Homo sapiens: one gene and its partners. The protein of the gene in region 3 purifies or fractionates together with the protein of the main gene of each other region. This does not show direct contact. Each region holds a gene or a part of one and is shown on either strand. Other genes may lie near its edges. The genes, in order: ABHD17B, CLMN and DYNLT2B.

Region 1 (9,962 bases), on a different chromosome or scaffold from region 3:
AGGTCACAAAGATTTATGCCTATATTTTCTTTTGAGAACTTCATAGTTTAGATCTTACATTTAGTCTTTGACTCATTTTGAGTTGATTTTTGTATATGGTGTGAAGTAAGAGTAAAATTTCATTCTTTTGCATGTGGATATTATGTTGCCCTAGCACCATTTGTTGAAAACACTTCTTTCACCATTGAATTGTTTTGGCACTCTTGTCAAAAATCAACTGACCATAAATGTCAGGTTTATTTCTGGATTCTCAGTTCTATTCCTTAGATATATTTGTCCTTATGCCAATAGCATTCTGTCTTGATTACTGTTGCTTTATTATGAGTTTTGAAATTGGGAAGTGTGAATCCTCCAACTTAGGTTTTCTTTTCAAGATTGATTTGGCTATTCTGGGTTCCTTGAGGTTCTGTATGAATTCTCTGCATTTTGTTTTTCTTGATTATAAGTGGAGGAGTCTTTTTTCTTAGTTTTATTTTTTTATTTTCTATAGACCTTTATACTTTTATATAAATTTTATAATCACTTTTGAGTTCCTCAAATTTCTGCTGGAATTTTGATGGGAATTACCTTGAAATTTTCATTCTGGGAGAGTTGACATTCTCAATGCTATTAAGTCATTCTTTCCATTTTTTAATGTTCTTATTTAAAATTTTTCTGCATAAAGGTTTTCTGCATTCTATTTTATATTAATTCCTAGATAGTCGTTTTGGTTGTGGGTGCGATCTTATTTATAATTTTTTTAACTATTTTTAGTTGTTTAATGCTAGCTAACATTGAACTGTACCAACTTTACCTAAGTTCATGCATTTGCCAAAATTGCTGAGAAGTCTCATTTGTTTTAATACTTTCTAGATTCTTTTGGTTTTCTATCAGGGTAATTATATCATCTACCAAACATATTGTTTTGTCCCTGTATATCTATTAAGAAAACCATGTGTTTTTTTTCTTTAGTTCATTAATGTGAATTACTTTGGTTTAACATTGGAAGATTTGTCATTCTTGTCTTTCAGCTTGATTTTGTATTTTGTATTTATATACACTTTATATGTTGTTTCTTTTTTTTAAGGTTTTTAAGGTTTTTTCATGCATGTTCAAAGTGAAGTGGACTTACAGTTTTATTTACAGTTCTAAGTTTTGGGATAAAGGTTATAATAGCCTCAGAAAGCAATTGTTGAGCAGCATTCATTTTCTGGAATAACTTCACTTAATGAAAGTATTTTAAGTGAAGGTGGTCTTTGATTTCCCTTTGAAGTTCTGATGGTTATTTGCATATTCTAGCCTTTGTGCCAATTTTGTCCTTTTATATTACTCAAGAAGTGCGTGAGTTTTGTCTAGGTTATTTATTGACACATGATATTCTTTCATTTCTAGAAACTATGTCTGTAGCTCAAAGTCCTTTTTCCTTTAGTACATTATTTCGTTTATTTTGCTTATCTCTTTCTTGTGATCAGTCTTGTCTGAGTACCCTTTCCACAAAACAGTAGTTATGAGTTTGGGTTACAGAGTCATTCTGTCATGTATCAGTTCCATTGATCAGATTTGTGACATTAGGCAACTTATGTAACTATTCTATGCCTCTGTTTTCTCAATTGCAAAATGGGTGTAATAATAGTCCCTAAAGCAGAGGATTGTTGAAAGGATTAGTTAATATGTGAAAAGTGTTTAGAATAGTGCCTGACACTTTGTAAGTGTTCAGTTAATGCTATTTGCTATTAGTAGTAGTGGAAGCCTTTTCTGAAATCAGCTGTTGGTTCTCCATTGCTTTTTGTTCTTTGTTTTGTTGATATCTGCTCTTAATTTTCTTTTTCTTGTTTTCTTTTTGTTTACTCTCTTCTTAAGTTGGACACTAATATTTAAAGCTAGACTTTTGTAATGGATAATTGTAACTCCTTTAGATGTGCCCTGCACTATCATTTTTCTGATGATTATATCTGACTTATTAAGAGTCATGCTTATATTCAGGCTTTTCTTCTATGTCTTAAGCTTATCAGTATCAGTAGCATCCTCAACAAGTCAGGTACCCCAGCACATTTTTACCTCTTAAGTAGTCTCTCTTTTGTCAATCCTCTTCGTATTCATATTCACCAAAGTTTTTGTTCTGGATTTTTAGGGATATACTTTGTTGTCTTCACCCTCCTTGCTCCCATTGCTCACTTGTACAAAAAACATTGTATTAACTATTCTCCTTTATTTCTCATATCTCAGATATCTCATAGAAGTCCCTTGGGATTTGGGGGGTTTTTGTTTGTTTTGTTGTTATTGTTGAGACAGGCTCTCACTCTGTAGCCCAGGCTGGAGTGTAGTGGCTCTATCACAGCTCGCTGTAGCCTTGACCTCCCATGCTCCAGCAGTCCTCCCACTCCAGCCACGCCAGTGGCTGAGATTACAGGCACACACTACCATGCCCAGCTAATTTTTGTATTTTTTATAGAGATGGAGTTTTGCCATGGTGCTCAGGCTGGTTTTCAATTCCTGGGCTCAAGCAATCCTCCTACCTCGGCCTCCCAAAGTGTTGGGATTATAGGTGTGAGCCACTGTGCCTGGCCTTCCCTTGGATTTATCTCCTTCCCTCCTTGCTGGAGTTTTTCAAAGAGAGACTTGATTTGGTTAAGTCTTACGAGTTTTTGTGGGCCTGCAGATCTCTCTCTCTCTTTGTTTTTTTTGATAGAGACAATGTTTTCCTATGTTGCTTAAGTGGTCCTCCCATCTTGGCCTCCCAAAGTGCTGGGATTACAGGAGTGAGCCACCACACCCAGCCCAGATACCTTTATCCTTATATTAAAACTGTATTTTTGTTCTATGTACAATTCTAGGTTAAAAGTTTGATTTCATCTTTAGCTTAAAATTATCTCTCCATTGTCTTTTGGCTTCCAGTGTTTATATTAGAAAGTCATATGTTCATCTGATCTTGTTCATTTTTAAGTAGTTTGTTGTTTTTTGGTACACTTTGAGGTGTTTCAATCTGACTTTTTTTCCCCCTTTAATTCTGAGAAATTCTTAAATAGTCTTATCTTTATTTTCTCCTGGAACTTCTATAGTATGGATAGTGATATTTCTACTTCTATTTCTATCTATTAAATTTTGTTGTTTTCTGTCTCTTAATTCCCACAAAAAAATTCCATATTTGCAAATTACTCAACCTGATCTTTTAGCTCACTGATGTGTTTTTCAACTGTTAACTGCTCAAGCAATCCACTGCGTCTGGCATGAGTTTTATAAGAACAAGTTGGACTTGAAATTATCTAAGTTTAACAAGCTATTTCAGTGATTTTTTTTTTTTTTTACAGAATAAAATGTTTTTCTTCAGTAACTTGCTCACACTATACTAAAACCTAGATTTATTTGTTTTGTTTATAGTTTTTGTGAAATTTTTCAGACTTAAAAAGTATTCAATTAACTTTTGAAAGTAGGTCTGTGTTGCTGCCCTATACCAGGCCTCTTATTAGGAAAGTGATCATTTGCAAGTTGTTGTCATTAAATAAGCCCCAGTTATCTGGCTTTTGGGCAGTGGAAGAGGGGAGTCATTCTGTCAGCATTAAGGAAGTGAAGTTGTCATTAAACTAGACCCTGGCACTGCAGTTTTTCTCCTTTCTGCTTCTCTCCTTTGGTGTTCATCCCCAGAAACTTCTTCACAGCATTATATATGTTCAACCAGCCAGCTTTATTTCAAAAGTAGTTTATTATAGTGTATGAAAGTTTTTCTGCTGGGTGCGGTGGCTCATGCCTGTAATCCCAGCAGTTTGGGAGGCCAAGGCAGGCAGATCATTTGAGGTCAGGAGTTCGAGACTAGCCTGGCCAACATCATGAAACCCCATCTCTACTAAAAATACAAAAATTAGCTGGGCATGGTGGTGTGTGCCTGTAATCCCAGCTACTGGGGAGGCTGAGGCAGGAGAATCACTTGAATGTGGGAGGCGGAGGTTGCAGTGAGCCAAGATCGCACCACTGCACTCCAGCCTGGGCGATAGAGTGAGACTTCGTCTCGAAAAACAACAACAAAAGTGTTTCTGGCTAAGAGATAAATTATAGGACTATAGTCTAGATACGTACCATTTACTTATTAAGCTTTTTAAAAGGCTATTGTGGCTCAGCAGTCAATGGTATATGAGGTAATCAGGGTTGACAAATAACCATAGACAGATATTAAACAGACAGCACTGATATTATACCTTGTACCTCATCATCTTTCTGCAGGTCATTTCCTCCTCTGGAACAGATCCTTTGAGTTCCTTCCCTTTCATCTTCTTCAACAGACACTTTATCCTCCTGACCAGGATAGTAAATTTGTAGCCAGAGTCTATAGTAAACATCACTAATTTATCACATCTTTTGCTGGCTAAGCCCTGTGTATGCCTTAGAATCATTCTCAGCACAACACTTCAGGAAGCCCTCAGTTAAAGTTAGCAGATGACACTTAGTTGTTATTTCTGTCCTATTTCTTGTTCCAACCAGAGTAAGCCATTAACTTATTCAGGCTGTATTTTGAAGCCTAAAAAGAAATAAAGGTAGGAAGCAATTAAAGCATTTCCTAATATCCAAGATGTTTTTCTGCCCTTCCCTCACCTTTTGAAGTCTTTTATGTTATACCTACCCTTGTTCCTCTCTTCCTGTGCTTTTTTCTGCTGCTTCTTATAAACACATTTATACTGAGCATTATAGGATATATTTGATTCTGTATTGAGTGAAAAGGGCATTTTTTCCCCCAGATATTCTCAACCATTTAGTCACTCTGTTGAGTTGTTTTCTTCCCATTTTTGGTGTAATAGGGTACTTTTTTCCCCCTATTCTTATATTTAGATTTTTTTTTTTTCTTTTTGGAGAAAATTGGATGCCACCAAACCTGTAAGGTGTTGGTTTTAAATGCCTTTTCTCTGGAACTAAGCAATGGCCTAATTTTGCTAAAAAGAGACAGGAATTTGAAAAAGGACAAGATAGAAGGAAATACTGATAGAACTAACAAGTATTACTTTATTTTTGTCCCTAAGTTAAAGTGTGACAATGATATGGCCATCACTCACCGTATGTTGTATGATGGGCCTTCACTACACCAACATTTGATATTCACAACCAGGTCCTTCAGTGTAGGTATTGGCCTTGTTTACTTATGAAGAAAATGAGAGTCAAAGAGATAGTTTGCCCAAGGACATACAGCTGGCAAACGGTAAGTGGTAGAGTTAGGATTTTACCCCAGCTTCCTAACTTTAAACCTTGTACTCTTTCTCTTCCAAACATTTAGAAAAGTTTACCTTTAGTAGATTTTACCTTTTTTCCACAATAAACTTTATATTATAGCCTTTTTAGTTTGGGCAGTAATTACATACATACATACATGCATGCATACATACATACACTTTAATGTTCTATAGGTTATTTGGGCCACTGGCACTGTGACCAAAGTGATAGTCTTCTGAGCGTGTTCTGAATCTGTGAGGCAGTGTAGCCCAGTAACATAGTGTAGTGACAGCCTGGAGTCAAATCCTGGCTCCACCACTGCCTCATCTTGTGCAAGTTTCCTTTCTCACAACAACTTACACAGTTGTTCTGAGAATTAAACCAAGTAACACACATAGAGCACTTGGCACAATGCCTGACAAATAGCTTCATAAATGCTATTAGTATGTATTCACTTTATGCTAAATTCCTAGCTTCTCCATGAGGTTCTAAGAACTTTTGCTGAGTTACATAGAAATTACAGACTACACTAAAGATATTTCATACCTTCAGGTTATTTGTAAAGAAATGGCAAATATTACCTTTATCATTTTTGACATTTATGTTAAATGAGATAATAATCACTGCTATTTGAAACCTGTCATATAGGATTTGAGTCTGTCTGCTGGTCAGGAATATTTGCCTCACCCCAGGATTTAAAGTACTTCTAGAAAGAAGCCAAAGGCCGGGCGTGGTGGCTTACTCCTTGTAATCCCAGCACTTTGGGAGGCCGAGGTGGGTGAATCACCTGAGGTCAGGAGTTCGAGACCAATCTGATCAACATGGAGAAACCCCATCTCTACTAAAAATACAAAATTAACCGGGTGTGGTGGCGCATGCCTGTAATCCCAGCTACTTAGGAGGCTGAGGCAGGAGAACCACTTGAACCCGGGAGGCGTAGGTTATGATGAGCTGAGATTGCGCCATTGCACTCCAGCCTGGGCAACAAGAGTGAAACTCCGTCTCAAAAAAAAAAAAGAAGCCAAAAATCTGTTTGGAATCATACCTAAAATAGTAATAGTCATTAACCACCAATAAAATTTACCCATGTCTGTGTTTTAACTTTTTATTGTATGAGTCTACATTCAGTTATTAAAATATTTGCTATCTCCTTTTCTTTTTCAGAGCATGAATAATCTTTCATTTAGTGAGCTATGTTGCCTCTTCTGCTGTCCACCTTGTCCAGGGAAGATTGCTTCAAAATTAGCGTTTTTGCCACCTGATCCAACTTACACACTGATGTGTGATGAAAGCGGAAGCCGTTGGACTTTACATCTGTCTGAACGAGCAGACTGGCAGTATTCTTCTAGAGAAAAAGATGCTATTGAGTGTTTCATGACTAGAACCAGTAAAGGCAACAGAATTGCTTGTATGTTTGTACGTTGTTCACCCAATGCGAAATACACTTTACTCTTCTCACATGGAAATGCTGTTGATCTTGGTCAAATGAGCAGCTTTTACATAGGACTAGGATCACGGATTAATTGTAATATATTCTCATATGATTATTCTGGATATGGTGCCAGTTCCGGGAAACCCACAGAGAAGAACCTCTATGCAGACATTGAAGCTGCTTGGCTTGCTCTTAGGACAAGGTAAATTGTGGTTGGAATTTATTTTTCATACTCGTGGTGGTTAGCTAAAAATATCTTGTGTAAGAATAGAATAAAAGCTGTTTTTATTATACATAACTGCTATATAGAGGTTATATTTACTATTATATACCTGTGAATAAATATTTTAGACAGCAATTTTAAATTTCACATAATAGCAAAACAAAGTTTTTAAAGACAGTTTCAGGTTTGTTTGTCTACATTAATACACGTATATATGTATGTTTTTTTTAACTTAAATTCTTAGCTGGAAGTCCATGGTGCATGCCTATAGTCCTAGTTACTTAGGAGACAAAGTCAGGGGAATCACTTGAGGCCAGGAGTTTGAGGCTGCAGTGAGCTATGATCGTGCCACTGCACTCCAGCCTGAGTGACAGCGTCAGACCTCATCTCTTAAAAAGTTAAAAAAAAAAAAAAATTAAATCCAGTGACAAATGTTTGGTTTTTGTAAGCTTTCTTATTGGAGTGTGATATAAAAAATGTTTATTCAAAGCTGCAACCTTTCAAGGAAATGAGAGAAAATACTGACATAGCTAATTATTCACTTGATCTGTCATTAACAGTATGAGGCTGGATTGCTTTCTATTAAAATCTTAAGCCAAGATTTGCATTATTTTATGTGATTACTTCTTGGGAAGTACAACTTAAAGATACCTTATTGGAATTATTTTTCAAGTATTCATTCTGTAAAACTGAGATTTTACTTTATATTCTGTGTTCCTAAAATTGGGAGAGATTATATCAAGTTTAAAAAAATTTTTTAGGCTGGGTGCGGTGGCTCACGCCTGTAGTCCTAGCACTTTGGGAGGCTGAGGCAGGCGAATCACAAGGTCAGGAGTTCGAGACCAGTCTGGCCAACATGGTGAAACCCCATCTCTACTAAAAATACAAAAAAAAAATGTCTGGGCGCAGTGGCTCATGCCTGTAATCACAGCACTTTGGGAGGCTAAGGCAGGTAGATCACGAGGTCAGGTATTCGAGACCAGCCTGGCCAAGATGGTGAAACCCCGTCTCTACTAAAAATACGAAAATTAGCCGGGCACAGTGGCGGGTGCCTGTAATCCCAGGTATTCGGGAAGCTGAGGCAGGAGAATCACTTGAACCTGGGAGGCGGAGGTTGCAGTGAGCTGAGATCACACCACTGCACTCAAGCCCAAGTGACAGAGTAAGACTCTGTTTAAAAAAAAAGAAGTTTTAATGTTATGATAAATTGTTTAATAAAATTTTCTTACTATGTCAGTTATTCTTTGATTATAGCAGCATACATTTTGGGGAACTAGAAATTGCATTAATCTTTTCTAGTCACCAAGATACCTAAACATTTTTCTTGAAAAAAAAATCACAATTTGGTAGACTTCAGTGTATTATTAGTCAGGTTAGTGTACAATAAACAGATACCTTAATATAGGCTATTCTTTATATTATATGAAAATAAAATATCTGACTTCCAGGATGTTTTAGACTGAAGCTATAGGATATAAAGAAAACTTACTGTTTCTAATTTAATGTTTAAATATTAAAGATTTCATTTAGTCAGGAAAAATTTCCTCAATTTTAATAATAAAGTAGTTAATATTATTAAAGATATTAAAAATATCTTTAAAACTATTTTTCCCTCCAAAGAAATGTAATAAAGTTATGCTCTCATAGCGAAGTTCTACATAAAAGGGATTCTTAAAATCAACTGAAATTATATAAAAACATAAATATGGGGAATAAGGAAAAAAAGATGGCAAGTAGTAGGTAAAGAGTTGATGGGGGATGGTAAAGTTATTGTTTAATTGATAAATTAAAAACTGCTTTAAATAAAAATCTTTTACATATATTGATATCAGTTCCATCAAGCCTTAAAACAAACAGAAACTGAGTGCCCACTTTTTAGAGTCAGTCAGTTGAATAACGTATAACAACTATAAGAAAGTATTATAATTAAAAAAATAGCTTTATTGAGTGATAAGGTTCACACTTTTAAAGGTTAACTTCAGTGGAATAATGAAGTTTTAAAGGGTGCTAAGTTAAAACTGATAGCCAGCTTTCATTATTAGTGCTTCCCAGTAACGCAAAAGGGTCACTTTACTCAAACAAAACATGTTAGTATTCAGTTCAGTGTTCTGTGTCTATATGAAAAAATCCCATTTTTTAAGTGGTCAACTTTACTGTTTTTTTCTTTTCTTTTCTTTTAATCTTGGCATTTACCAATTTGAAGAAAACTTTGAAAAATGATTTTCAGCCTTAATTTTTTTAACATATTTGATAGCCAGTGTTAATCAGGAATGGGCAGATTTCATCAATAATCCCACATACTATTTTAGCACTTATATTTTAGAATTTTAGACCTGTGTTTTCTTTCGTGTTGAAACCAAAATATAGTTGGAGTTTCATAAGTGTAGGTACTTTAGGAAATATTACTTCTCTGAGCCTGTGTTTCCTCATCTGTTTAATGAAGAGATTGAATTAAATGATCCCCAAGATCTTTTCCAATTCTGGAATTCTGTCATCTAATGAAATGTGTGTAATTAGAATACATGCCTTTTATTTTATTTGCCTGATTAAAAGTTAGGACTTAAGTAACCAGGAGAGAGAAAATAAATAATGAACTTAAATAATGTTCATTTTTGGGATGAATGAACATTGGAATGTCCTTTTTGGGAAAATTGGATATCCATAATAACTCCAATTTCTGACCTTCTGATGGACCAAAAGAAACTCGGGGCCTGGCATTCACTATGCACCTTTCCCACAAAGTCCTTGAGTTCCTCATCTGTGTGCTTCAGAGGTAAAAAACACTGAACTGGGAGTCAGTATACCTGGGTTCTAATTATAGAGCTGTCATCTACTGGTGACTTTGAAGATCTGCTCATTAGGCAGCTGGACTCTAGATTAGATGGTCTCTAAACTCCTTTCTAGCTCATACTGTTAGGCAGTTGTTACTCTTGTGAGTCCCCTCATGCTTAATTGTCAGCTACCTCTGCGACTCTATCCTTGAGCATTGTCATTGCTAGCTGTAGCCCAAATTTCATGATTGCCACCAACAATGCTGATATTCAGCTGACAGCAACAATGCAGCCTCAAGAACTGTGGTCATGCTGCAAATGTTCATTCTCCTAATTTCTTCATTCGTATGAAATATGTGCAACT
Region 2 (9,962 bases), on a different chromosome or scaffold from region 3:
CTGGGGCTCTGTTTTGTACAGAAGAACTTCCCAGGATCCTCCATGCCGTGACTTTCATCCTGGCCCCCACCTGTGTGTGTGTTTCCTGCCTGTCCCTGCACCACATACGGACCCCTTACAGGGCGCTGTGGAAGCAGGAATTCCTGGGCTGGAATGCCAGTTCTCCACTTGGAGCTGTGTGACCTCAGGCTGGTGACTTGACCTCTCTGATACACATCTATATTGAATGTGTATCTATTGAATGTGTGTCACCTGTAAAATGGAAATCTGACCCACATTTCAGGGCTATGTGAAGGATAAACAGTTATGTGAAGTACCTAGTACTGTGCCTGGAACAACAGTGGATGTTTAGTGAATAATGGTGACTTGGTCAATGGGTATAAAGTTACAGTTACATAGGAGGAATCAGTTCTGGTATTGTATTGCAGAGCAAGATGGCTATAGTTAATAATAATGTAACCAGTGGCTCACATTTATAATCCCAACACTTTGGGAGGCTGAAGCAGGAGGATTGCTTGAGCCCAGGAGTTAAAGACCAGCCTGGGCAACAAAGCGAGACCCCATTTTCTTTTCTACAAAAAAGAAAGAAAGAATAATATACTGTGTATTTCAAAATGTCTAAAAGAGAAGATTTTAACTGTTTTCATTACAAAGAAATGATAAATATTTGAGGTGACGAATATATTGATTTCTCAGATTTGATCATTTTACAATGTATACACGTTTTAAGATATCACATTATACTCCATAAATATATACAATTATTATTTGTCAATTAAAAATTTAAACAGAATCAAAAGAAAGGGATCCAGCCCTGCCAATATCTTGATTTTAGTCCATTGAGGCCTGTTTTGGATTTCTGATGTCCAGAAGTGTAACATAACAAATTTTTGTTGTTTTAAGCAAAAAAAAAAAAGTAGTGATTATTATTTTGCAATTCAATTTTCCTGGCCTGTTACTGTATTTTGAAATACTAGGCATTGGGGCTTTCATTAGCCCTGAGCTCTTAATCTGTAGGCAGAGTTTGAAATCAACTAAAACATACGGTATTTGTGTGAGTCAAAGCCACAGCTAAAATTGAGCAAATCTGACACAGATCTCCCCAATGCTGAGGTCAGAAACTGCAGATGGGAAAAGATTGAGCCAGAAATAATACCTGGAGAAAGTCATTCTGGTTCACAGAACATGCTGCATCACTGCAGAACAGTCTATTTACATCTACAAGGGAATACAGATGAGAATTTACAGCTTATCCAGACACGCAGTGAACTGTTCTTAACAATTCTGCTGAGTTATTTCATTTCAGTAAACATTTGTTGGGCCCTGACCATGTACCACACATTGTTGCTAGCTTTGTGGCCCAGCACATGGTTTCTTTTGGTAAATGTGCCATATGCATTTGAAAAGAACGGGTCTTATACAGTTAAAGAATACTGGTATTCTTTAATATGCTGTTAATATGTTAATATGCTATTCTAGTATTCTATATTTATACTGATTTTTCCTGCTTTCCTGATCCATTAATGCAGGAGAGAAATGTTGAAAAAAAAATCTCCAACTGTGATTGTGAATTTATTTCTCCTCTTAGTTCTGCCAGTTTTTGTTTAATATATGTTGATGCTATGCTGTTAAGTGCACAGACACAATTTATTATATTTTCCTGATGACTTGATTGCTTTATTTTTATAAAATTTCCCCCATCTTGAAGTGTGCTTTGTCTGATATGAACATAGCCATAGCAGCTTTCTTATGATTAGTGCTTGTGTCATAACTTTTTCCATTTTTTTCCTTTCAGTGTATGTACACTTATATTTAAAGTATGTCTCTTGTAAACAGTATACAGTTGGGTCTTGTATTTATTCTGACAAACTCTGTCATTTAATCAGTACATTTTTCATACGTTTATACGGGTTTCATCTACCATCTTGGTTATTGTTTTCCATTGGTCTGATATGTTCTATGCTCCATTGTCCTTCCTTCTTAACTTTTTGGGGATTATTCAAGGATTTCTTTTGTGTGCATTTATCCCCTTTATTGGTTTTTTAACCACATCACCTTGTTTTATCTTTTTAGTAGCTGTTCTAGTGATTATAATACTCATCTTTAACATACATCAGCTTACCTTAAATTAATATACTACTTCAAGTACAATGCATATTTTACATATTTGTATATATTTTATATATATCACATATATAATTTTACTTCATCTCCATTACTTTTGCTACTATATTGTCATTTACTTTACTTCTGCATATGTTTTAATCCTCAATACCTTGTTATTTTTGCTTTAAATAGCTAGTAGGCTTTTTAAGAAAACTTTGAAGTAGTCTTTTCTATTGACCATATATTTACCATTTCCAGTACTGTTCATTCCCTCCTTTAGGCTTTATATCTGAGATTGTGTTCTTTGAGCCTGAAGAACTATTTCTTTTGTATTGCTTGTAGCACAGATTAGTTATTCTAGAGCCTTTGCTTGTGAATTCTAACTCCGGGTCCTATATGGGTCTATATCTAGTGATTATTTCTTCTCTTGATTGTGGATTTCGTTTTCCTGCCTCTTCATGTCTTGTAATTATTTTATGTCAAACTTGGTATATAAAAGAACAATAGAGGTTGAAGCAGATGTCATTTTTTTCCCTCAGGAAATACAGCCCTTTCCCAAACAAGTGTGTAAGATGAGGAGCTGTCGTTTTGATCATATCAGCGTCAATAGGAGCTATGTTGCAGTTTTATTTAATTTCTTCTCTCTGGTTTTAAATGATTTGAGGCTGAAGTCAATTCACACTATCGGTGCATTGGGAGTCAAGCACTGCAGTACCACAGAGTCATTTTCTGCTTTTCAGCCCTGCCCCCAGCTGGCTCTTACACAGCAAAATTCCCTGTGTGGGCTAATTAGTATATGAAGAAAATTGCTTTTGTGTTTGGAGGGCTTCCAGATTCACTCTCTCATACCAGCCCACACAATCAATAAAGATTTGGCTGATCTTTCCTTATCTCAGGTGGATTAGCTCTTCTCCAAGTCCATACCCAGACTAGGCAACATGGTCCTCAAGCATGAAGGGGCTGACAATCTCTGCTCACTTTAGAAGGGATTGTCCTTCTTTAGAGCTTGGTTTCATTGAGATTCGTTAATCCATAGCTTTTTAAAAAACATGGTATTTTATATTTTTATTTATCTGATGTTTTCATATTTCAGCAGGAACAAGAGTCTTCTCTAACCATTTACATCTTAGAACACTTTGCATTGGTTTGAAGTGGCTTTTTCCATTTTTGTTTGTTTGTGTTTTGGGAAAGGTGGATATGGGTTGTACTTAAATATTCTTCTTACTCATGTTGCTCTGTGCTTTTTTTTGTTGTTGTTCTTTTGTTTTTTTTTGTTTGTTTGTTTTTGTTTTTTTTTGCAGGAAGATATTTTCGATTCAGATAAAGAAGTTCCTATCGAATCCACTTTTGTTCGCATCAAAGAAACTCCTTCTGAACAGGAGAGCAAAGTCTTCGTTCTGACTGAAAATGGGGAGCGTACCTACACTGTTAACCATGAAACCAGCCACCCACCACCCTCCAAAGTCTTTGTCTGTGACAAGCCCGAGAGCATGAAGGAATTCCGCCTGGATGGTGTTTCCAGCCATGCGCTGTCAGACAGCTCCACCGAGTTCATGCACCAGATTATTGACCAGGTCCTGCAAGGGGGCCCAGGTAAGACCAGCGACATCAGTGAGCCATCTCCAGAATCCTCCATTTTATCATCCAGAAAGGAGAACGGGAGGTCCAACTCTTTGCCGATCAAGAAAACAGTTCACTTTGAGGCTGACACCTACAAGGATCCTTTCTGCAGTAAGAACCTGTCCCTTTGCTTTGAAGGGAGCCCAAGAGTGGCAAAGGAATCATTGAGGCAGGATGGACATGTCTTGGCAGTTGAGGTTGCTGAGGAAAAGGAACAGAAACAGGAATCCTCGAAGATTCCAGAATCCTCCTCTGACAAGGTCGCTGGTGACATTTTTTTGGTGGAGGGCACAAACAATAATTCTCAGTCTTCTTCCTGTAATGGTGCTTTAGAGAGTACAGCCCGCCACGATGAAGAAAGTCACTCTCTTTCACCCCCAGGAGAAAATACTGTGATGGCCGATTCCTTCCAGATCAAGGTTAACCTGATGACTGTAGAAGCTTTAGAGGAGGGAGACTATTTTGAAGCCATCCCATTAAAAGCCTCAAAATTTAACAGCGACCTAATAGATTTTGCTTCTACCAGCCAGGCTTTCAACAAAGTTCCTTCACCTCATGAGACAAAACCTGACGAGGATGCTGAGGCTTTTGAGAATCATGCTGAAAAACTAGGTAAAAGGAGTATTAAATCTGCTCACAAAAAGAAGGATTCGCCAGAGCCTCAAGTTAAGATGGACAAACATGAACCTCATCAGGACTCCGGAGAAGAAGCTGAAGGCTGTCCTTCAGCCCCAGAAGAGACACCAGTGGATAAAAAGCCAGAGGTGCATGAAAAGGCCAAGAGAAAGTCCACCCGTCCTCATTATGAGGAAGAGGGAGAAGACGATGACCTCCAGGGTGTGGGCGAGGAATTATCTTCCAGCCCCCCAAGCAGCTGTGTCAGCTTGGAGACCCTTGGGAGTCACAGCGAAGAAGGCCTGGATTTCAAGCCCTCCCCACCCCTCTCAAAGGTTTCCGTCATTCCCCACGACCTCTTCTATTTCCCACACTATGAGGTTCCCCTGGCTGCAGTTTTGGAGGCTTATGTAGAAGACCCGGAGGATCTAAAAAATGAAGAAATGGATCTCGAAGAGCCAGAGGGCTATATGCCAGACCTGGACTCCAGGGAGGAGGAGGCCGATGGCTCTCAGAGCAGCTCCAGTTCCTCGGTGCCAGGAGAGAGCCTCCCCAGTGCCAGCGACCAGGTGCTGTATCTCAGCAGGGGTGGTGTGGGTACCACACCAGCCTCAGAACCCGCTCCACTGGCCCCCCATGAGGACCACCAGCAAAGGGAGACCAAAGAGAATGACCCCATGGACAGCCATCAGGTACTCAACCGTGGGATTTGGGAACCCTGGGTCCTGCCTGGGAAACTTGATAGTTCTTTGTCTGAAGCTCAGCTTCTTGCTCCATAAAATAGCGATGAGGGGGCTTCCCTTGGGACTACTATGGTGCAAAATTCAAAGAGGCACCTACTGTGAGGCTCGGGCAAATGCAGGGTTGGCACCTGAGAGTGAGCACCTCCTGAAATCCTGCACACGGGCACCTCACTGGCTTTCCCCCAGTCCTGGCCCTACTCACAGGTATGCTCTGAGGATCAAGTGAGGTCACCTTTGAGGGTCCAGCAGAGGAGGGGCAGAAATGATTTCAAAAGCAGTCATTGTCACAGGGCAAGGGTTGAAAAACTAACCGTTGCATACTATTCTCAGTACCTGGGCAGTGGGATCAGGAAAGCACATCTCCCTTATCCTGTTACACACACATTTCTAACACAGAAACCAAATATTAGTGCCCAACAGGAATAAGTCCTTTAAAAATCAAAAAAGCTCACCATCACTGATCATTAGAGAAATGCAAATCAAAACCACAATGAGATTCCATCTCACACCAGTAAGAATGGCGATTATGTCAGGAAACAATAGATGCTGGCGAGGCTGTGGAGAAGTAGGAATGCTTTTACACCATTGGTGGGATTGTAAATTAGTCCAACCATTGTGGAAGACAGTGTGGTGATTCCTCCATCTGATTTCAGAACCAGAAATACCATTTGACCCACCAATCCCATTACGAGGTATATGCCCAAAGGAATATAAATCATTCTGCTATAAAGACATACATGCACACATATGTTTATTGCAACACTATTTACAATAGCAAAGACATGGAACCAACCCAAATGCCCCCCAGTGATAGACTGGATAAAGAAAATGTGGTACATATATACCATGGAATACTATGCAGCCATAAAAAAGAATGAGTTCATGCCCTTTGCAGGGACATGGATGAAGCTGGAAGCCATCATTCTCAGCAAACTAAAAGAGGAACAGAAAACCAAACACCGCTTGTCCTCACTTATAAATGGGAGTTGAACAATGAGAACACATGGACACAGGGAGGGGAACAACACACATTGTTGGGGGGTGGGAGGCGAGGGGAGGGAGATCATTAGGACAAATATCTAATGCATGCGGGCCTTAAAACCTAGATGATGGGTTGATAGGTGCAGCAAACTACCATGACACTTGTATTTCTATGTAACAAACCTGCACACTCTGTACGTGTATCCCAGAACTTAAAGTAAAATAAAAAAAAAAAAAAAGGAAAAAAAAGCCAATAAAGGAAGAAACAAACAAACTAATAAAAAGTCCTTTAAAACTCAAGGCTGGAGTCAGCCTTCATGACCCCATCACCCAGGTACTGAGAATAGTGTACTAACCGTTGGGTATTGCAGCCAGGGGAACCTCATAGTGTGGGAAATAGAAGGGGTCGTGGGGAATGATGGAAGGCCTTTGAGAGGGGTGGGGAGGGCTGGAAATCCAGGCCTTCTTCGCTGTGACTCCCAAGGGTCTCCAAGCTGACACGGCTGCTTGGGGGGTTGGAAGATAATTACCCCAAGCTTCAGCATCATGCAATATACCTACATAACAAACTTGCACATGAACCCCCCAAATCTAAAATAAAAGTTGAAAAACAAAAAATATATATATATATATTTTTAAATTTTTTTATTATACTTTAAGTTCTGGGGTACATGTGCAGAACGTGCAGGTTTGTTACATAGGTATACATGTGCCATGGTGGTTTGCTGCACCCATCAACCCATCATCTACATTAGGTATTTTTCCTAATGCTATCCCTCCCCTAGCCCCCGACCCCCACAGGCCCCGGTATGTGATGTTCTCTCATAACTTACCACTAACATAGGCATTAGAAAGTTAAAGAAAAAAACAGTCATCGTAGCTAACATCTAGCATGCACTTAGTGAACACTAGCCTGTTCTGCAGTAACTTAGGAGAAACAGAAGAAGCCCTCATGTTTGACTCCAGTTTTGATTTTTTTAAAGGACTTTTGCCTGTTGGGCACTAATCTTTGGTTTCTGTGGTTTGAAATTGGTGTGTAAATAGCATAAGGGGACATGCGCTCTTCTGAGCTTGAGCAGCTGGTCACATTCTTATCTGCCACTTGTGTTCCCACTTCATCTGGCCCAGTAGCTCACAAAGGGCCACTGGAGTGATCAGTGAAGGGGGGTGCCTGGGCGGCTGGCCTGATGGGGAGGCTCCTCCTGCAGATGCCACGTTAATAAGTGCTGCGTCCTGCTACGGCACTGGGGATCCAGGAGGTGAGTCCGAAACCACATTGGCCATGCCCTGCTGGATATAGTGCACACAGGGCATCCAGGGCAAGACAGCCAGGGAGGAGAAGGGCCTGGGCTCGGCCTCTCCAGCCCCTCCATGAGCTCACCTGCTTACTCATCCAACCCCATGGAAAGCGATGCATCTGGCACTGCCAGGAAGATAAAAAAAGAAGGAAAATCCTGCCTTCGGTGTCTAATGCGGGAGACAGAGTCCCCAGTAACTGTACTGTGAGAGAATGTGGCCTCAGCCATTAGAGATGGGCCCAGCGAAGGGATTCAGGAGTTCAACAGAAGGAGGCTCCCACCCAGATCCAGAAAGGCTGCATGGGGGTTTTGGGGAGCCTAGAACTGGGGAGGAAGTTCTGGGTAGAGGGACTAAGGGTAGAGGTCCCCTAAGTGCAGGAGCCAGGTGGGAAAGTGACCAGCTATTTCAGATTGCATTGGCTCTGCCTCTATCTCAGACCCTTCCCCAGTCTGTCACTGTCCCTCCTCCCCAGCTCAGCTTGCAGAGGGATGACCCTAAAGCACAAGTCTCACCTTATCACTTCCTGACTGCTGCATCCAGGACAAAGTCTAAATGTCTTAGCATGAACTCCAAGACTCTTCCCGCTCTAACCTGGCCACCCACCCCTCTTTGTCTCCCTCCCCTCTAGCCAAGCCAGCATCCTCCCACACCCCCAGACATCCAGGCTCTCCTCTGCCTCCAGGTGTGACTGGGCTGGTCCCACCATCTGGGCAAGCAGTTATTCAACCTTCAAAGTCAATGCAAATGGCACCTCCTCCCAGAAGCCCTCCGACCTCCTCCCCAGGCAGAGCCATTGCTCCCTCCCTATAGCTGATCACATTTTTGACAATCTCTCCTTGAGTGCTTACCTGATTTCCATGGGCTTTGTTTTTCTCTCCCGAGAGAGTGTGGACATTTGTGTATTGATCTTTGGATGCTAGAGACCAGCACGGTGCCTGACAGGGCCTGCCAGTGTAGGGGACAAAGGTTTATTACACGATGGTTTCGGGGGCATACAGCAAATGGAAGGTAAATGAAACACTGAGATACATGACAAAGCCCTGGCTCATCAGAGCCCAGTGAGGGGCCCAAAGGACTGGAGCTGATTGGAGGATTGAGAGAGGCTTGCACCCTGCGGGAGCTACAGAAAAAGTCTGGTTCGAGTAGTCTTTTTTAAGTTTAAGTTTATTGACAGTTGAGTAGTTGGTGTGAATGAGTGGGGTAGAAGACCTAGAAGATTAGTTGAGCCAATAAAGAGAATAAGGGAAATTAATATAAGGGATCAGGTTCGTCCTAAAAGACACTGCAGATTTTAGCTAGGCCAGAAGTGGGGGGCTGGTTTTATTCAGTTTGCCAAATCTGAGCAATGAGGAGTGGCTACCTAAGCCCTAGGAGGAGCAGCATCCTCAGGCCGAGGGCCACATGGGCAGGGCTGCACACTCCGTGTTTGCCAACCGTGGAATGGATGGGAAGAGGGCTGGATGGCTCTGCAGGTGCCAGGGACCACGGCTGCCATCTTCCCCCTCTTCCCCCAGGGAGAGGAACCCAGTCCTCCACTTGCTTCCATGGCCTGCTGTGTGCTGACTTCTCTGAAGTCTCAAAATAAATAAATAAATAAATAATAAATAAAATAAAATGATGAATTAGTGGTTTGCATCCTCCCTCCTGGCCTATTGGATGTGGCCTGTGAAAATACAAATGTGGCAGTTTGTTCTCGAATGCTTTCCTTCCAGCAATTGCCAAAAGCAGAGAGTGCATGTGTCCAGCACTTGGACAGGTGATTTGCGGTGTGGCTGAAAGAGCCCTGGGTTGCAGTGGTAGAATCGGGAGATCTAGATTTGAACTCCATCTTACATGGATCTCACTCTTGGTGAGAGCGTGGGCAGATGAGCTCCCTTGGGTGCAGTGTGGGAATGAAATCAACACCGTCTGCCTCACTTGGCTCCGGTCCGCTGCCTCACCTGCCCAGCAAGCACTGCCCACTGATCCCCAGCCCACCTTGCAATTTGCTCCCAAGTGCAGCCCTTGCCTCAATCCGTGTGGGTGAGCGTAGGGGGAGGGTACAGCCCGTTTGATGAGGAGCCCAAGGTGAGGTCTGGGAGTCTTGGGTCCTGGCAGACAAGGAGATGGGATGAGGCATTTCTCTGATACCTTGCCTTCCTTTAAAAAAAAAAAAGAGGCCAGGAGCAGTGGCTCACGCCTGTAATCCCTGCCCTTTGGGAGGCTGAAGTGGGTGGACCACCTGAGGTCAAGAGTTCGAGACCAGCCTGGCCAACATGGAGAAACCCTGTCTCTACTAAAAATACAAAAATTAGCCAGGCGTGGTGGCAGGTGCCTGTAATCCCAGCTACTCCGGAGGCTGAGGCAGAAAAATCACTTAAACCTGGGAGGTAGAGGTTGCAGTGAGCCAAGATCAAGCCACTGCACTCCAGCCTAGGAGACAAAAGCAAGACTCCATCTCAAAAAAAAAAAAAAAAAAAAAAAAGAAAGAAAAAAAGATATTTTCCCAGCCAAAGGGACTAGAAAATGGCAAGTTTTTCTTCTGATCTTGAAAAAATAAATAAGCCCTCTGCTTGTTTCATCTTTCAAAAACAGTAGCATTTGACCATTGATGAGGGC
Region 3 (9,807 bases):
AGAGAGGGAGTCTCGCTATATTGCCCAGTCTGGTCTTGAACTCCTGACCTCAAGTGATCCTCCCACCTTGGTCTCCCAAAGCGCTGGATTACAGGCATGAGTCACTGTGCCTGGCCCCAACCCCCATCTTCTAAATTCAACTTCTCCAGTTATTGTGGACTAAATAGTGTTTCCTCCAAATCTGTAGGTTGAAGCCCTAACCCCCAATATGACAGTCTTTGGTGGTGGCACTTTTTTTTTTTTTTTTTGAGACAGTCTCGCTCTGTCACCCAGGCTGGAGTGCAGTGGCGTGATCTCGGCTCACTGCAACCTCCACCTCCCAGGTTCAAGTGATTCTCCTGCCTCAGCCTCCTGAGTAGCTGGGATTACAGGCATGTGCCACCACACCCAGCTAATTTTTGTATTTTTAGTAGAGACGGGGGTTTCACCATGTTGGCCAGGCTGGTCTCGAACTCCTGGCTGCAAGTGATCCGCCCACCTTGGCCTCCAAAAGTGCTGGGATTACAGGTGTGAGCCACCGCGCCTGGCCATGATGGCACCTTTAAATTAGTAATTAAGGTTAAATGAGACTGGGCGCAATGGCTCACACCTGTAATCTGAGCACTTTGGGAGGCCAATGTGGGAAGATCACTTGTGACCAGGGGTTTGAGACTAACCTGGGCAACACAGTGAGACCTCGTCTCAAAAAAAAAAAACACAACAACAAATGATTAAATGAGGCCATAGGGTGGGACCCTAATTAAATAGGACTGGTGTGCTTATAAAAAGAGGAAGAAAGAACAGAGCTCTCTACACTGGCTCAAAGAAAAAGGCCCTGTAAGGACCCAGTGAGAAGGCGGCTGTCTGCAAGCGCAGGGGCGAGGCCTCAGGAGATACCAAACCTGCTGGCACCTGGATCTTGGACTTCTAGCCTCCAGCACTGTGAGAAAATCTATTTCAGTTGCTTAAGTGCCCAGTTCATGGTATTCTGCAACAGCAGCCTGGCAGACTAATACACCAGCATTCTCTTCACTAGTGTTCAAGAGTTCAACAAGTAGAGGAGCATCACCTCTGTCCACACAGTTTGGATATCTGTCCTCACCCAAATCTCATGTTGAATTGTGATCCCCAGTGCTAGAGGTGGGGCCTGGCAGAAGGTGTGTGGATCATGAGGCGGATCCCTCACGGCTCAGAGCTGTCTTTGTGATAGTGGGTTCCCGCGAGATCTGGTCATTTAGAAGCGTGTGGCACCTCTGGCCTCTCTCTCGCCTGCTCCTGCTCTCACTATGTGACTCGCCTGCTCCCTCTTCACCTGCTGCCATGAGTAAAAGCTCTCTGAGGCCTCCCCAGAAGCTGAGTGATGTGGGTGCTATGCTTCCTGTAACCCCTGCAGAACTGTGAGCCAATTAAATCTCTTTTTCTTTTTTATGGAGTCTCGCTCTGTTGCCCAGGCTGGAGTGCAGTGGCATGATCTCGGCTCACTGCACCCTCTGCCTCCCAAGTTCAAGCGATTCTCCTGCTTCAGCCTCCTGAGTGGCTGGGATTACAGGCACCCGCCACCACACCTGGCTATTTTTTTTGTACTTTTAGTAGAGATGGGTTTTCACCATATTGGCCAGGCTGGTCTTGAACTCCTGACCTTGTGACCCGCCCACCTCGGCCTCCCAAAGTGCTGGGATTACAGGCGTGAGCCACCCAACCCGACCTCACAGCTGCTTCTCACACGGCACCTAGAAGCAGGGGCCTCCTGCTCTCCCACTGCGGGGTTTTCAGTCAGGTCGGGCTGGGTGGTGAGGAGAGTCAGAGCGGAATGAGGAAGATGCTGGTGGGAGAGTGTGGTGTGACAGGCAGGAAGAGGACAAGGCAGGCAGAAGCAGCCTGGGAGGAACCTGGAAGATGGGCACTGGCAAGAAAAGTGGTGGGCGGTCCCCAGAAACGAGTTTGAGAACCCCAGGCTCTGGCCGGGCACGGTGGCTCACACCTGCAATCCCAGCACTTTGGGAGGCCACGGTGGGTGGATCACCAGAAGTCAGGAGTTTGAGACCAGCCTGGCCAACATAGTGAAACTTCAGCTCTACAAAAAATACAAAAATTATATGGGCGTGGTGGTGCATGTCGGTAATCCCAGCTATTCAGAGGCTGAAGCAGGAGAATTGCTTGAAACCAGGAGACAGAGGTTGCAGTGAGCCGAGATTGCACCACTGAACTCCAGCCTGGGGGACAGAGACTCTGTCTCACAAAAAAAAAAAAAAAAAAAAAAAAAGAGGCCGGGTGCAGTGGCTCACACCTGTAATCCCAGCACTTTAGGAGTCTGAGGCAGGCAGATCATGAGGTCAGAAGTTCACGACCAGCCTAGCCAACATGGTGAAACCCCGTCTCTATAAAAAATACAAAAATTAGCCAGGTGTGGTGGTGTGCACCTGTAATCCCAGCTACTCGGGAGGCTGAGGCAGGAGAATTGCTTGAACCCGAGAGGCGGAGGTTGCAGTGAGCCGAGATCATGCCACTGCACTCCAGGCTGGGGGTCAGAGCGAGATTCTGTCTCGGGAAAACAAAAAACAAAAAAAACCCTCCCGGAAACACAGCACCCCAGGCTCTGTTGGAAGGGAATGTGGGGCCCAGGTGCTGCTCTATCCCCTCCTCAGTCCCCTGGATCCCAGCTTGATTCCTCCACTATTCTGCCTCAGTGAGGAGTTGCTGAAGCACTGGGGGCTTCCAGAACACAGGGGTGCCTCCCTCTCCCAGGCTCAGAGGCACGGTTCTGTCATCCGACAGTCCAACCAGCAGAGCTCGTAGGAGGCAGGTCCCTTCAAACACCACCTCACCCTTTCCTCTCCAGGGCTGCTGGCCTAGCAGGCCTGCCAGGGTGGGGAAGGTGGACACAGAGGCCTGTGGGAGACACAAGGAGGCACAGCCTCTTGAGCAGGCAGGAAGTCTCCAAGTCCAGAGAGCACATCCTATTCCTGCATACAACATCCAGGAAGCTTGCCTGGGCTTGTCTCACATTTCCCTCTTGGCTGGTTAGTTTCAGGGTCATGGCTAGGATATGCCTGATATGGAGAAGCTTCTCTTGCTGGGGAAAGGTACTGACACCTCCACACAACTCACGCAGAATTTTTTTTTTTTTTTTTTTTTTTGATACAGAGTCTCATGCTGGAGTGCAGTGGTGTGATCTCGGCTCACTGCAAGCTCCGACTCCCTGGTTCAAGCAATTCTCCTGCCTCAGCCTCCCAAGTAGCTGGGATTACAGGCACATGCCACCACACCCAGCTAATTTTTGTATTTTTAGTAGAGACCGGGTTTCACAATGTTAGCCAGGATGGTCTTGATCTCCTAACCTCATGATCCGCCCGCCTCGGCCTCCCAAAGTGCTGGGATCACAGGTGCGAGTCACCGTGCCTGGCCAACTAATGAAAAGTTTAAAGAATTTATATCTAGTTTTGGATGTTAGGCATGCACACACAAGTGCATGCACACTCATACACATCATCTCCACAAGCCCCATCCTGGCTCAGCCCTATTCTGATGGGTCAGCAGGACCCCAAGGAGAGAAGGGTGGGTCCTTGGCACTAAGACAGTTCACAGTGGTTAGCTGACTCCTTCTTGCCTCCATTCTTTCAGGAACTGCATATAGTACAGAACATGACAGCGATTCGAAAAACAATATCCCAGCTGGCTGTGATGGCTCATGCCTGTAGTCCCAGCACTTCGGAAGGCTGAGGTGGGATAATCACTTGAGCCCAAGAGTTCAATAGTAGCCTGGGCAGCATAGCCAGATCCTATCTCTACAAAAATTAAAAAGATTAGCCACGCGCGGTGGCATTCGCCTGTAGTTCCAGGTACTCCAGAGGCTGAGGTGGGAGGACTGCTTGAGTCCAAGAGGTCGAGGCTGAAGTGAGCGGTGAGTGTGCCACTGCACTCCAGCCTGAGAAACAGAGCAAGACCCTGTCTCAAGTGGGAAAAAAAAAAAAAGGAATCCCTGCCCTTTCAGCCTCTCCTGTAAACAGGGATTACAGGCACGAGCTACCTCATCGGGCCTTAGTTTTTGAAGCTAGCAGAGGCCAAGATACAACAGCCTTCTAAAACAGGACCAGGGACTGGTGCTTATAAGCAGGGAATGCGGCAGAGTACGATGGCTCACGCCTGTCATCCCAGCACTTCGGGAGACCGAGGTGGGCGATCACCTGAGGTCAGGAGTTGGAGACCAGCCTGGCCAATATGGTGAAACCCCGTCTCTAATAAAAATACAAAAAAAATTAGCCGGTCGTGGTGGGGCGCGCCTGTAATCCCTGCTGCTTGGGAGGCTGAGGCAGAATTGCTTGAACCTGGGAGGTGGAGGTTGCAGTGAGCCGAGATCGCGCCTCTGCACTCCAGCCTGAGTGACAGAGCGAGACTTCGTTTAAAAAAATAAAAATAAATATATATTTTTAAAAGCGGGGAATGCAGCCTAAGTCTCTTTCCTTCCTTCCTTTTTTTTTTTTTTTCTTTTTTTGAGACGCAGTCTCGCTCTGTCGCCAGGCTGGAGTGCAGTGGCGCGATCTCGGCTCACTGCAACCTCGGCCTCCTGGGTTCAATAGATTATTCTGCCTCAGCCTCCAGAGCAGCTGGGGTTACAGGCACGCGCCACCACGCCCGGCTAATTTTTGTATTTTCAGTAGAGATGGGGTTTCACCATGTCGGCCAGGATGGTCTTGAACTCTTCCTGACTCAGGTGATCCGCCCGCCTCGGCCTCCCAAAGTGCTGGGATTGCAGGCCTGAGCCCCCGCACCCGGCCGCCGCAATTACTTCTGCACCAGCCTAATACCTCAAGTCCAGGAGCCTCAGGCCCCGCGTCTATTTCCTCCGACTGCGGCGCGGCTGATACTGCCTGAGGCGGGTGGAAGCTGTCGCGCGTCCGGACGCGACCAGTTCCCGCCCAGCAGCCGGTGCGCAGGCGCGGGCAGGGAGGGCGGCTGTGCGGGGCGCTCGCGGGCTTCAGCGAGGCGGGAGGGCGGCCCTGTTGCCCTGGAGACGCTTTCCCTGCTGCCGGCCGCGACCGCAACCCGCTAGGCCTTCATCGCGAGCTACGCCCGGACCGAGAAGCCCCGGCATGGCCACGTCCATCGGAGTGTCCTTCTCGGTGGGCGACGGGGTGCCTGAGGCTGAGAAGAACGCAGGGGAGCCCGAGAACACCTATATTCTGCGGCCTGTTTTCCAGCAGAGGCGGGTAGAGGACGGGCTGTGGCGGGGCGACCTCGAGCGCGCTGGTCTGAGGGGCGGAGCTCGCCTGGGACCTGGGCCACGGAAGGAGCGCGGGGGACGCGCGGGGTCCGCGGGGCGGGAGGCGGGAGGCCGCGAGGCGGGCGGGCGGCCCTGCTGTGACGTCCGGGCGCCCCTCCCGCTGCAGGGGCCGCAGGGGACCCCACCCGCTTCCTCAGTGTTTGGGCGCCGGGCGCGTCTTAGGGTGGCGCGGCGGGAATGGTTGGCCCTGGGAAACCCGCGATGGCGTCCTGAGTAAGGAGATGGGTAGAATAGAGGCAGGAAGCCACTCGCGTCGGATGCCGTTCAGCCGTGATTCGAGGGTGACTGTGCACACGGGTGCCAGGATGGGCTCACTCCCGGCGCGGGAGCTGCATCTGTGCGAAGTCCTACCCGGGTGGGATCTGGAGGCCCTTAGACCACCGCAGCGAGCCCTCGCTAGGATTAAGGCTCACGGGCCAGAGCAGAGGGTACTCAGCTAGGTTTGTGAGATCACTAACTTTACACACACACACACACACACACACACACACTGAAAAAAATATCAGGCTCACGGGCCAGAGCAGAGGGTACTCAGCTAGGTTTGTGAGATCACTAACTTTACACACACACACACACACACACACACACACACTGAAAAAAATATCAGGCTCACGGGCCAGAGCAGAGGGTACTCAGCTAGGTTTGTAAGATCACTAACTTTACACACACACACACACACAACACACACACACACTGAAAAAAAATGTCAGGCTCACGGGCCAGAGCAGAGGGTACTCAGCTAGGTTTGTAAGATCACTAACTTTACACACACACACACAACACACACACACACACACACACACACACTGAAAAAAAATGTCAGGCTCACGGGCCAGAGCAGAGGGTACTCAGGTTTGTAAGATCACTAACTTTACACACACACACACACACACACACACCACACACACACCACACAACACACACACACACACACACACACTGAAAAAAATGTCAGGCTCACGGGCCAGAGCAGAGGGTACTCAGCTAGGTTTGTGAGATCACTAACTTTACACACACACACACACACCACACAACACACACACACACCACACAACACACACACACACACACTGAAAAAAATGTCAGGCTCACGGGCCAGAGCAGAGGGTACTCAGCTAGGTTTGTAAGATCACTAACTTTACACACACACACACACCCCATATTTGCTTGGCAAATATGGAAAACAGGAATTTTGATTATAATGTGATACAAATTTCTTTGTTTATTTTTATTCTCTTGGTAACTCACAGAAAAAGTGATACAAATTTCATACAGGATTTTTCCCTTGGGTAGAATGAACACAGAGAAAGATACCCTCAGTTATCTTGGTAAAAGGTTCTGAATGCCCAGAATGCCATTCAGCCGTATTTTTTTATTTTATTTTATTTTATTTTATTTTGTGAAAGCGTGCAGAACAAAATTAACAACAAGTATATATTTTGTTTTGGGGGAGAGGGGAGTATGAGAAGCTCATTATTGGATGTATTGAGTTGCCTAATAAACATTCATATGGAGCATGAGTTGGAATGTGTTGAAGTTCAGTGCAGGTCCAGGTTGAAGATACACATGTGGCCTATGATTTGTCTTAATTTGTTTATATTTTATAATAAAAAATATGAAAAAGAAGGATTAAGTGGTACTAATGACAAAAAGATGGGAGAAGTTGCGGTATGAAGGTAAGCTGGGGTTGTGGAGTCACCGACTGGATGTTCACAAATTGTTCCATTCAGGTTCAGGCCCTCTGTGGTTAAAGACTGTATCCATGCTGTGCTCAAGGAGGAACTGGCAAATGCTGAATATTCTCCAGAAGAAATGCCTCAGCTTACAAAACATTTATCAGAAAACATTAAAGATAAATTAAAAGGTAATCATGGTGATAACTGGAAATGACTCATTCTCTTCACAGAGTCAGTATTACCCATTTGCCCCCTCTCCATCTTTAAACAAAGGACATTGGGGCCAGGTGTGGTGGCTCACGCCTACAATCCCAACACTTTAGCATGCCAAGGCAGGAAGATTGCTTGAGCTCTGGAGTTCAGTACCAGCCTAGGCAACATGGTGAGGCCTCATGTCTATTTTTCTTTTTTTTGAGATGGAGTTTCACTCTTGTTGCCCAGGCTGGAGTGCAATGGCATGATCTTGGCTCACTGCAAACTCCGCCTCCCGGGTTCAAGTGATTCTTCTGCCTCAGCCTCCTGAGTAGTTGGGATTACAGGCATGCACCATCACGCCTGGCTAATTTTGTATTTTTAGTAGAGACGGGGTTTCTCCATGTTGGTCAGGCTGGTCTCAAACTCCTGACCTCAGGTAATCCACCCGCCTCGGCCTCTCAAGGTGCTGGGATTACAGACATGAGCCACCGCGCCCAGCCGACCTCATGTGTATTAAAAAGCAAAATAAAGGCCGGGCGCAGTGGCTCACGCCTGTAATCGCAGCACTTTGGGAGGCTGAGGCGGGTGGATCACGAGGTCAGGAGATTGAGACCATCCTGGCTAACACGATGAAACCCTGTCTCTACTAAAAATACAAAAAATAGCTGGGTGTGGTGGCACACGCCTGCAGTCCCAGCTGCTTGGGAGGCTGAGGCAGGAGAATCACTTGAACCCAGGAGGTGGAGGTTGCAGTGAGCTGAGATCGCGTCACTGCACTCCAGCCTGGGTGACAGAGTGAGACTCTGTCTCAAAAAAAAAAAAAAGCAAAATAAAAAAATAAAACATCTCTATTAAAAAAACGTAAATAGAATGTTAGCTGTGGATTCTATTAAAGACAACTTTTTCTTCAGTGTCTTGTCTTCTCTAATTATTTGGTGACTTTTACTCATGTAAGTTTTTGCAGATGGGGGAAAAGAGTGAAGATGTGAAATAAAACACTGTCCAAAAAATCTTAGTATTCAGAAAGACCAGAAAGTACAGGGACTCCTTTCCCCTGTATTTCTTGGTTGTTTCTTCCCCCAAGCTGTCAAGTCCTCAGCCTGGCATTTAGTACCTGCAGTCCATCTCTCCTCCCTAATCCTTAGCTACTTCCCTTACTCAACCCTCGACCCCTACCAAACTACATCTGTAGAGCATATTTTGTGCTTTTCCTACCCTGTTCTCTTTGTCTCTCTGATTGTTTTGTTTTTTTTTGTTTTGTTTTGTTTTTGAAATAGGGTCTTGCTGTTTTGTCCAGGGTGGAGTGCAGTGGTGTGAACATGGCTCACTGCAGCCTTGACCTCCTGGCTCAAGCGATCCTCCCATCTCAGCCTCCCAAGTAGCTGGGTCTACAGGCTTGTGCCACCGTGCTTGGCTAATTTTTTAATTTTTAAATTTTTCTGTAGAGATGGTGTCTTGCCATGTTGCCCTGGCTGATCTTGAGCTCCTGGCCTCAAGTGATTCTCCCACCTAGGCCTCGCAAACTGCTGGGATTGCAGGTGTGAGCCACTGCGCCTGGTCTCTCTCTTTTGTTAATAATGTTATACCGTCTGATCTGAAAAGTTCTTTTTTTTTTTTTTTTTCTTTTTGAGACAGAGTCTCGCTCTGTTTCCCAGGCTGGAGTGCAGTGGTGTGATCTCAGCTCACTGCAACCTCCTCCTCCTGGGCTCAAGTGATCCTCCCGCCTCAGCCTCCCAAGCAGTTGGAATTTCAAGCATGCGCCACCACACGTGGCTAATTTTGTCTTGAACTCCTGACCCTCAAGAGATCTGCAAGCCTTGGCCTCCCAACATGCTGGGATTACAGATGTGAGCCACCGTGCCCGGCCTATTTCCATCTGCTCTTCTTAGAAGACATCATTTTTTGAAGAGAAAGAATATCTTCATAAAAGTAATACATGCTCGTTGTAATAAACCTAGACAATACAAAAAAGTATCCATAAGGTTTTTTTTTGAGATGGAGTTTTGCTGTTGTTGCCCAGGCTGGAGTCCAATGGCATGATCTTGGCTCACTGCAATCTCCGCCTCCTGGGTTCAAGCGATTCTCCTGCCTCAGCCTCCTGAGTAGCTGGGATTACAGGCAAGTGCCACCATGCCCGGCTAATTTTTGTGTTTTTAGTAGAGACGGGGTTTCTCCATGTTGGTCAGGCTGATCTCGAACTCCTGACCTCAGGTGATCCGTCCGCCTCGGCCTCCCAAAGTGGTGGAATTACAGGCGTGAGCCACTGTGCCTGGCCCCTTAAAGTTTTAAAATATTAACCAAAGGCAGTTACTATTTAATATTTGTGTTTATTGTTTTTTTCTGAATTTGTTTTTAGTTTAAGAAATTAAAAAATACAGAAAAGTACAAAGAATAGCAATCCTGTGTATTTCTATCACCCAGAATTAACTGCTGTTAGTATATTAGCATTTTTGTTTTTAGACTTTTTAATGAAGGTTCATCGTTAAGATTTTTTGTAAAAAATGGTACACATTCATTATACAAAATTTAAACACTAGAAAAATAAAATGAGAAAAATCACCTGAATGCCACCACCAATAAACAATCATTAATATTGGCCAGGCACAGTGGCTCACGCCTGTAATTCCAGCACTTTTGGAGGTTGAGGCGGGCGGATCTCTTGAGCCCAGGAGTTCG

What was found.
Region 1: the proteins of DYNLT2B (region 3) and ABHD17B purify together in Homo sapiens (affinity purification with mass spectrometry; 2 studies listed by BioGRID and IntAct, with this or other methods). This does not show direct contact.
Region 2: the proteins of DYNLT2B (region 3) and CLMN purify together in Homo sapiens (affinity purification with mass spectrometry; 2 studies listed by BioGRID and IntAct, with this or other methods). This does not show direct contact.

The regions. Positions count from the first base shown.
Region 1 is NC_000009.12:71,871,458-71,881,419, reverse strand, and holds part of ABHD17B (alpha/beta hydrolase domain-containing protein 17B), read left to right. Parts: intron 1-6,336; 5' UTR 6,337-6,339; coding exon 6,340-6,806; intron 6,807-9,962. UniProt on the Homo sapiens protein: Hydrolyzes fatty acids from S-acylated cysteine residues in proteins. Has depalmitoylating activity towards DLG4/PSD95. Has depalmitoylating activity towards GAP43. Has depalmitoylating activity towards MAP6. Has depalmitoylating activity towards NRAS.
Region 2 is NC_000014.9:95,197,909-95,207,870, reverse strand, and holds part of CLMN (calmin), read left to right. Parts: intron 1-3,407; coding exon 3,408-5,033; intron 5,034-9,962.
Region 3 is NC_000003.12:196,313,415-196,323,221, reverse strand, and holds the start of DYNLT2B (dynein light chain Tctex-type protein 2B), read left to right. Parts: upstream 1-4,981; 5' UTR 4,982-5,069; coding exon 5,070-5,182; intron 5,183-5,630; exon of another isoform or gene 5,631-6,248; intron 6,249-6,379; exon of another isoform or gene 6,380-6,780; intron 6,781-6,990; coding exon 6,991-7,124; exon of another isoform or gene 7,125-7,137; intron 7,138-9,807. UniProt on the Homo sapiens protein: Acts as one of several non-catalytic accessory components of the cytoplasmic dynein 2 complex (dynein-2 complex), a motor protein complex that drives the movement of cargos along microtubules within cilia and flagella in concert with the intraflagellar transport (IFT) system.